Linked DNA regions of Homo sapiens. The protein of the gene in region 1 purifies or fractionates together with the protein of each later gene. This does not show direct contact. Each region holds a gene or a part of one and is shown in the gene's direction. Other genes may lie near its edges.

Region 1 (4,133 bases):
TGGACATGTGTCCAACGCCAGCATCAGGGTCGGGGAGAATGTGTCAGATGTGGCTCCCACCAGGCCACGGTGGAATACCCACGGGCACGTGTCCAACGCCAGCATCAGGGTTGGGGAGAACGTGTCGGACGTGGCTCCCACCCGGCCACGGTGGAACACCCATGGACACGTGTCCGATGCCAGCATCAGCTTGGGGGAGTCTGTGTCAGACATGGCTCCCGCCCGGCCACGGTGGAACACCCATGGACACGTGTCTGATGCCAGCATCAGCTTGGGGGAGTCTGTGTCAGACATGGCTCCCACCCGGCCACGGTGGAACACCCACGGACATGTGTCTGACACCAGCATCAGGGTTGGGGAGAACGTATCGGACGTGGCTCCCATCCGGTCACGGTGCAACACCCATGGACACGTGTCCGACGCCAGCATCAGCTTGGGGGAGCCTGTGTCGGATGTGGTTTCCACCCGGCCACGGTGGAACACCCATGTACCCATCCCTCCGCCCCACATGGTGCTGGGGGCTCTCTCACCAGAAGCTGAGCCCAACACACCCAGGCCCCAACAGAGCCCCCCTGGCCACACGTCCCAGTCAGCGCTCAGCCTGGGAGCACAGAGCACTGTGCTGGACTGTGGGCCACGGCTGCCTGTAGAAGTGGGGCCATCTCTGTCCTCCCCCAGCTCGGGCTGCGGGGAGGGGAGCATCAGCGTGGGGGAGAACGTGTCAGACGTGGCTCCCACCCAACCATGGTGGCCCAACACCCCGGGAGACAGTGTCTCTGAAGAACTAGGTCAGAGTAGGGTGGCTGGTGGTCAGGAGTGGGACTGTGGGACGCACAGAGCCTGGGAGGTAGGCGGGCAGTGGGGTTGGTGGCATGTGAAGTTCCCCTCAGGCCTCCTTGTCAGCCAGGACCTGGGCTGCTGTGGGGGACATGGGAGGGGCTGCTTGAGCCAGGGCCGGCTCGGCTCTGTACCCGCCACAGGCACTCGGCCCTGATGCCCTCGTGTCCACTTGTGTCCACACAGGCCCTGGGAGGAGCGGGGACACTGAGGACCTCTCTCCAAATTGGCCTCTCAACTCACAGGTTAGGTGGATGCAGCCTGGGGGTCCCACAGCAGGCAGGGAGGGCTCTGTCCCTCTAGGTTGTCACGCGGGTGGGTCCCACATGCGATTTTCCTTTTTTTGGCACAAGCTGGTTGTGGGGACAGCGTGCAGTGGGGAGGTGGTTCTGAGGCTGGTGTTTTGTTAGGAAGACACAGCTGCCCAGAGCAGCCCAGGCCGTGGTGAGGAGGCGGAGGCATCGGCGGCGGAGGCTCAGGGTGGGGAGCAGGCCTACCTGGCAGGCCTGGCAGGGCAGTACCACTTGGAGCGGTACCCGGACAGTTACGAGTCCATGTGTGAGTGCAGCAGTTGCTGTTGGCAGGGAGCCCTGGGCTGGCTGGTTCCCAGCACGTGCTCCACCTCCTGTGGGTTGGGGCGGAGCCCTGGGCTAGCCAGTTCCCAGCACGTGCTCCATCTCCTGTGGATGGGGGCGGAGCCCTGGGCTGGCCGGTTCCCAGCACGTGCGTGCTCCATCTCCCGCAGCCGAGCCGCCCATTGCTCATCTTTTGCGCCCCGTGCTTCCCCGGGCCTTCGCCTTCCCCGTGGACCCCCAGGTCCAGTCTGCCGCTGATGAGACTGCTGTGCAGCTGAGCGAGTTGCTGACGCTGCCCGTGCTCATGAAGCGCTCCATCACGGCACCGCTGGCCGCCCAGTGAGTGCCCCTGCCCCTGCGCCAGTCTGCCCACCCAGCCCGTCCTGGCCCGCCCTGACTCCAGCTCCCTCCTGCCAGCATCTCCTTGGTGAACAAGGCCGCTGTCGACTACTTCTTCGTGGAGCTGCACCTGGAGGCGCACTATGAGGCACTGCGGCACTTCCTGCTGATGGAGGACGGCGAGTTCGCCCAGTCCCTCAGCGACCTGCTCTTTGAGAAGGTGGCCTCCGGACACGGGGTGGGGCCAGTGGTAGAGGGGAGGCCGTGGGAAAAGAGAGACTGGCTGCACGCCCACAGCCCCCTGCTGCTCTGGCACAGCCCCATGGGGTGCCGGCGAGTGCCAGGCATGTGCTTGGGACTCCTGGGGACGGTGGTCCCTTTTCTGCCTAGCTTGGAGCTGGGCAAACGCCCGGAGAGCTGCTCAACCCGCTGGTGCTGAACTCTGTGCTGAGCAAGGCCCTGCAGTGCAGCCTGCATGGGGACACCCCGCACGCCTCCAACCTCTCCCTCGCTCTCAAGTACCTGCCCGAGGTGTTTGCCCCCAACGCCCCGGATGTGCTGAGCTGCCTGGAGCTCAGGTACAAGGTCAGCAGCAGCCCTGGCCGCGGGGGATGGGACAGGGGCCTGCCTGCCTGTGGGATGCCTGCTGAGCCACGCCTCCTGGCAGGTGGACTGGCCTCTCAACATTGTCATCACCGAGGGCTGCGTGAGCAAGTACAGCGGCGTCTTCTCCTTCCTGCTGCAGCTGAAGCTCATGATGTGGGCGCTCAAGGACGTCTGCTTCCACCTCAAGCGCACAGGTGAGGCCCCGCTGGAGCCCGGCGCCCCGCACCCCTGGCTGGAGGCTGCGCTCACCTCTGCCCTCTGCCTTCTGCCCTCCGCCAGCCCTGCTGAGCCACATGGCCGGCTCTGTGCAGTTCCGTCAGCTGCAGCTGTTCAAGCACGAGATGCAGCATTTCGTGAAGGTCATCCAGGGCTACATCGCCAACCAGATCCTGCACGTCACCTGGTGCGAGTTCAGGGCCAGGTTGGCCACCGTGGGCGACCTGGAGGAGATCCAGCGTGCGCACGCAGAGTACCTGCACAAGGCCGTCTTCAGGTGAGGCCTGGGCAGCGGCTGCGTCCCTGTGGTCACGGCTCAGCCCACCCAGCAGCACTGCTTCCCCCCAGGGGCCTGCTCACGGAGAAGGCGGCGCCCGTCATGAACGTCATCCACAGCATCTTCAGCCTCGTGCTCAAGTTCCGCAGCCAGCTCATCTCCCAGGCCTGGGGGCCCCCTGGGGGCCCGCGGGGTGCAGAGCACCCCAACTTTGCACTCATGCAGCAGTCCTACAACACCTTCAAGTACTACTCCCACTTTCTCTTCAAAGGTGAGGCCCACCCTGGCTGGGAGGGCTGCGGGGGGGCCAGGGCGGGGCTCACACTGTGGGCAAAAGCCTGAGCTGCTCGCTGGTCCCCAGTGGTGACCAAGCTGGTGAACCGCGGCTACCAGCCCCACCTGGAGGACTTTCTGCTGCGCATCAACTTCAACAACTACTACCAGGACGCCTGAGGCTGCTCTGCGGGGGACGTGCACAATAAAGGTGTTCTCGGACCCTGTCTGCAGCTCTCTCTCCTGGGTGGGGGCTGAGGACAGGGCAGGGTGGGGGAACAATGACCACAGAGACAGACTCGAGGGAGTTGCTGGTTTATTTAGGAGCCTGGGTCCAGCCCCCAGGGACCAGGCTGCACTGCTGAGCCGGCCTCAGACAGAGACGGGTCAGGTCCTGACTGGATGTCTCTGCCATCATGGAAAGACGGGTGTGCATGGGCCAGGGCAGAATCCCCCAGTGTATAGGGCAGCCTGGCATCATCTTGGCCACTCAGCAGCACATGGGGGCCTCGGGAGACTCCAGGGGTGTGGAGCGTGCCGAGGCCGTTACGAAGATCATGTCACGCACAGTTCTGCTGCCCAGAGCGGGGGCTTACTGCTGTAGGAGCGCTGCCTGCCGTCCGCCCCGTCGGCTTCCGTGGCCTCGGCGTCTGTGGCGGCCCCCGCCTCGCAGTGGTAAGGGGTCTCCAGTAGTTTCAGCACCCGCCGCACCTGGAGGATCAGGAGGGTGAGAGGGGTCTGGGGCCGACCCCCCTCCCAGGGACCACAGGGACAGGCGTGTGCTTGCCTCTGAGAAGTCCCCGCGCTCGGCAGCCTCGATGGCATTCTGCGCGATGTAGTTCCTCAGCACGTACTTCGGGTTGTTGGCGTGCATCACGCGCACGTGCTCAGCCTGCCAGGCGGCAGCGTCCCCAGCGCCTTCCAGGTCCTTGTCCAGCCGGGCTCTGGAATGACATCCGGGCTCTGGAGTCACAGCCGGGCTGGACTTTTTCCAGCACGCGACCCGCCGT
Region 2 (3,803 bases), on another chromosome or scaffold:
GTGGACAGAAGTCTCCAGGCCCCACTTTTAATCACAGTGAGAGTCACTCAGGGGAGGGCGGGATGTTGACTTTGGAGAGTCCAGTTTTGCTATTCGGTTTTGTGGTTGGTGTCATCTCTCTGTGATTTTAGAAATGAAAAGAAAATTAGTCTGGACAGAATGAGGGAAGAAAGTTCAAGCGTCCCAACCCTGTTCTTGGCATCTTTTATTTCTTAAAGGCTTAAAGTCTCTTTAACAGCCAAAAAACAAATCGAGGGCGGGGTGGGGATTGGGGGGAATTCAGGGGCTGCCCGCAAAACCCGGGCCAGGACCCATCGCTTTGGTTGTGCATCATGTTCATCACCGCCGGACGTTCACCGACATGTTGGAGCCGCCGTGTTTGGGGGGCGAGCTCTGGTCCGCGCTCCACTCTGCCTCGTCTGTGCCCAAGTTCTCGGCACTGAGGCTTCCCTGCTCTCCCAAGGCGAGAAACGCCCCAGGGCATCCCCCTCCCTATGGGAGGCCCTGCACAGGGCGGGTCGCTGTGGTTGAGAGGGCCTCTGGGAGACGTGGTTCGCAAGGCGACCACGGGTGTGAGGGCACGGGGAGTTCAGCCCTATCCGGAGTTCAGGCACAGCCCCTGATGTCCCCGAAACCTAGAGACAGCAGGTGGTGTTGGGGGGTTCTGAGGGTGGAGTGTGGGGGTCCCCCAGAGGTCCAGTGGCAGCTCCTTGGGGAAGGACCTCCCCTCCCAGCAGGGGGTGCAGGGCAGGGCGTCTCTCCTGTTGCCCAGGAATCCATCACCCAGGCGGGGCAGGTTCCCGGTGGCCAAGGATTCTCCCGGTTTATGTGCTGATGATCCTCGGTGTTGGGGAATTGCAGACAGGTCATGAAGTCGGCAGCCCCGGCTTGGACGCCATCGGCTGGCTTCTAACCCTGTTTCCCTTTCGACTGAGGCACAGTGTCCGTGTCATCAGCTGCCCAGATGCTAAGGGGAGAGCTCACGGGCATTTGCCGTGTGTCTGAGCACAAGGGCCAGCAGTGGGGAGGCCCGGGAGGCAGGAGGCAGGGGTCCTTGAGTCCTGAAGGTCAGCACAGGATGAGGGCCTGCAGCGCTGGGACAGCCTTGAGCAACAGGAGGGGCTGGGAGGGTGGCCTGGAACAGCTCCCACTGGCGGCCAGGCAGGTGCACACAAAGGGAGATTACTGGCTCATCAGCCAGTGTTTGCCTTGTCTTTACCCTGCGGAGGGAGTTCCCAGGTGGGAGGGCTTTCCGACTCCTGCCAACCAACCCTTTCTCACGTCTTTCTTGATGATGTCCCCTTTCTCCCTGTCCCCTTGACACTGGACATTTGAGACAGCCTGTGGCCGAGCTCACTGGCCTCAGGGACAAGAAAGGAATCTGGGGTCACCTTTCCTCCTGGTGATCCAGGAATCCGCCTCTGCAGGAGGAGGACAGACTCAGAACCGGCCCCTCAACCTCCCTGGCGCTGCGGTTTGGCACCTCCACCCAGCAGAGCCCTGTGGCCCCAGGGCCTTCTTGACCCGAGGACACCCTTCTTGGTTCTGGCCAGAGCCCTTGCTTTGGAGATTTGGACTTTTTATACGGGAAGTGCTTGGATTTCTTACTTTAATTATCTCTTAAGTTGTAAATTGTGTACATTTTTGAGACATTTTGTGAATTGTGTACATTTTTGAGGCCTGTAGCAAAAAACAAGAGATGTGATTTGGGGCTTGGATATAGAGGCAAGGCAAAATAAGACAGAGACAGAGAGGAATAGAGAGAGAGTGGGCTCCACCTGGCCTGGCCTTGGCCCTCGCTGCCTGGAGCTTGCTCCTGTGGCAGTGAGCAAGGGTGCCGGTGTCCAGCCCCTTGGCCAGCCCTGCAGGAGTCTCGTGCTGTCACACCAGTGTCAAGGGTAGCAGGGCACAGTGGGGAAGTTCAGGCCTTTTGTTCAATCAACAGGCACCTGTGGACTCCATGGTGTGTCCCGATCTGCCTGCCACGAGCTGAGAGGATGACTCTCACTGGGAAGAGAGTGAGGAGGCTCTAGAGGGTGCATGTAGTCCCCACCCTGCTGGGTTCAGGGGAGCCTGTAGCCAACGCCAGAATCTCCCCTTCCAGCAGCAAGATGCCGGTCCTCCAGCAGACAGTCATGTGCCAGTCAAGGCTCTCCAGAGAAGCAGGACAAGTAGGACGCGCACGCACACTCCTGACAGATGTATGCGTATGTGTATGTCTGTATACACGTATCCTTCCGATCCCATTTCTCTCTACAGATAGTGTGTGTGTGTATAGATACATAGAGGGAGAAAGAGAGAAGCTGATTTATTGTAAAGAACTGGCTCATATGATTGTTGGAGGCTGGCAAGTCTCAAATCTGCAGGGCAGGCTGGAGACCCAGGGAGAGCCACTGTTGCCATCTTGGGTCCGAGGGCCATCGGGAGACGGAGTTCCTTCCTCCAGAGGGGACCTCAGTCTTTCCCTGTTAGTCCTCCAACCGACTAGACAAGGCCCACCCACAGTATGAAGGTCATCTGCTTTGCTCAAAGTCTACTGATGTAAATGTCTCCCTCCCTCCCTCCCTCCCTCCTTCCCTCCCTCTCTCCCTTCCTTCCTTCTTTCTTTCCTTCCTTCCTTCTTTCTTTCCTTCCTTCCTTCTTTCTTTCCTTCCTTCCTTCTTTCTTTCCTTCCTTCCTTCTTTCTTTCCTTCCTTCCTTCTTTCTTTCCTTCCTTCCTTCTTTCTTTCCTTCCTTCCTTCTTTCTTTCCTTCCTTCCTTCCTTCATCTCACTCTGCCACCCAGGCTGGAATGCAGTGCTATGATCATGGCTCAGGTGGATCCTCTGGCGTCAGCCTCCTGAGTGGCTGGGACTGCAGATGCATACCACCACAGCCAGATACCTTTTGTATTTTTTTGTGGAGTCGGGTCTCATTATGTTGCCCAGGCTGTCTCAAACTGCTGGGCTCATGCAATCCACCTGCCTCTGCCTCCCAAAGTGCTGGGATTACAGGCATGAGCCACCACACCCAGCCTGAGTGTCGCCTTCATCTTAAGAATGTCTTCACAGTGACATCTAGACTGCTTTGACCATACAGCGGGGCACTGTGGCCGGGCTAAGAAGGGTGCGCCCATCACCAGAGGTGATGATGTCTGCTGTCCCACTGCTAGGGGTGCAGGGGTTTAGGGGGACAGTGATGATTTTGAGAAACAAGTGGTTTCATCTTCTAGATCGGTGTTGCCGCAAGTATTGTTCTCGTAGTGTTTGAGGTTAAGTCCTAGGAAGTACTAAGCTTAAGGAGTTCATTTTCTGTCCTCCTTATTATGATTTGAGATGGAGTTGGTAAGGATACAGTGGGGTGATTTAGGTAATGAATGTACAAATAAAAGGCCTTTTGCTGACCTTACCGAGGCAAAGGTAACCCCAGATCCTTTAGCGAACATTGCTAAACATCTGCCACTCATGCTGCAAACACTGAGTTCAAGCTCGAGTACCCAAATAGTGAATTCGGGGGAGTCAGGACCAGAGAATGGTGATCTAGACCTTTTCACTCGGCATTTGCTTAGACCGGGCATTGGCAGACTTTTTCTGTAAAAGGCCACATAGTAAATATTTTGACTTTGCAGTACGAAAGCAGCTATGGACATGATGTAATAGAATGATTGTGGCTGTCTACCAACAAGATTTTATTAACAAGAGCGAGTGGGTGCTGGGGTTTGGCCTGGGGCCCTGGTTTGCTAACCCCTGGCTCTGAGGGTCCTTGGCCTGTTATGGGGTGGGGTGGGGACTCCCCTAGACTCTGCAAGTCTGGGCCTCCCTGTCT

The links.
Region 2: the proteins of TUBGCP6 (region 1) and FRMD1 purify together in Homo sapiens (co-immunoprecipitation; one large-scale study listed by IntAct). This does not show direct contact.

Annotation. Positions count from the first base shown.
Region 1 is NC_000022.11:50,216,906-50,221,038, reverse strand, and holds the end of TUBGCP6 (gamma-tubulin complex component 6), read left to right. Parts: coding exon 1-788; exon of another isoform or gene 789-847; intron 848-1,023; coding exon 1,024-1,082; intron 1,083-1,247; coding exon 1,248-1,395; intron 1,396-1,582; coding exon 1,583-1,751; intron 1,752-1,829; coding exon 1,830-1,971; intron 1,972-2,141; coding exon 2,142-2,336; intron 2,337-2,418; coding exon 2,419-2,551; intron 2,552-2,636; coding exon 2,637-2,850; intron 2,851-2,921; coding exon 2,922-3,121; intron 3,122-3,211; coding exon 3,212-3,303; 3' UTR 3,304-3,345; downstream 3,346-4,133. UniProt on the Homo sapiens protein: Component of the gamma-tubulin ring complex (gTuRC) which mediates microtubule nucleation.
Region 2 is NC_000006.12:168,069,154-168,072,956, reverse strand, and holds part of FRMD1 (FERM domain-containing protein 1), read left to right. Parts: intron 1-3,803.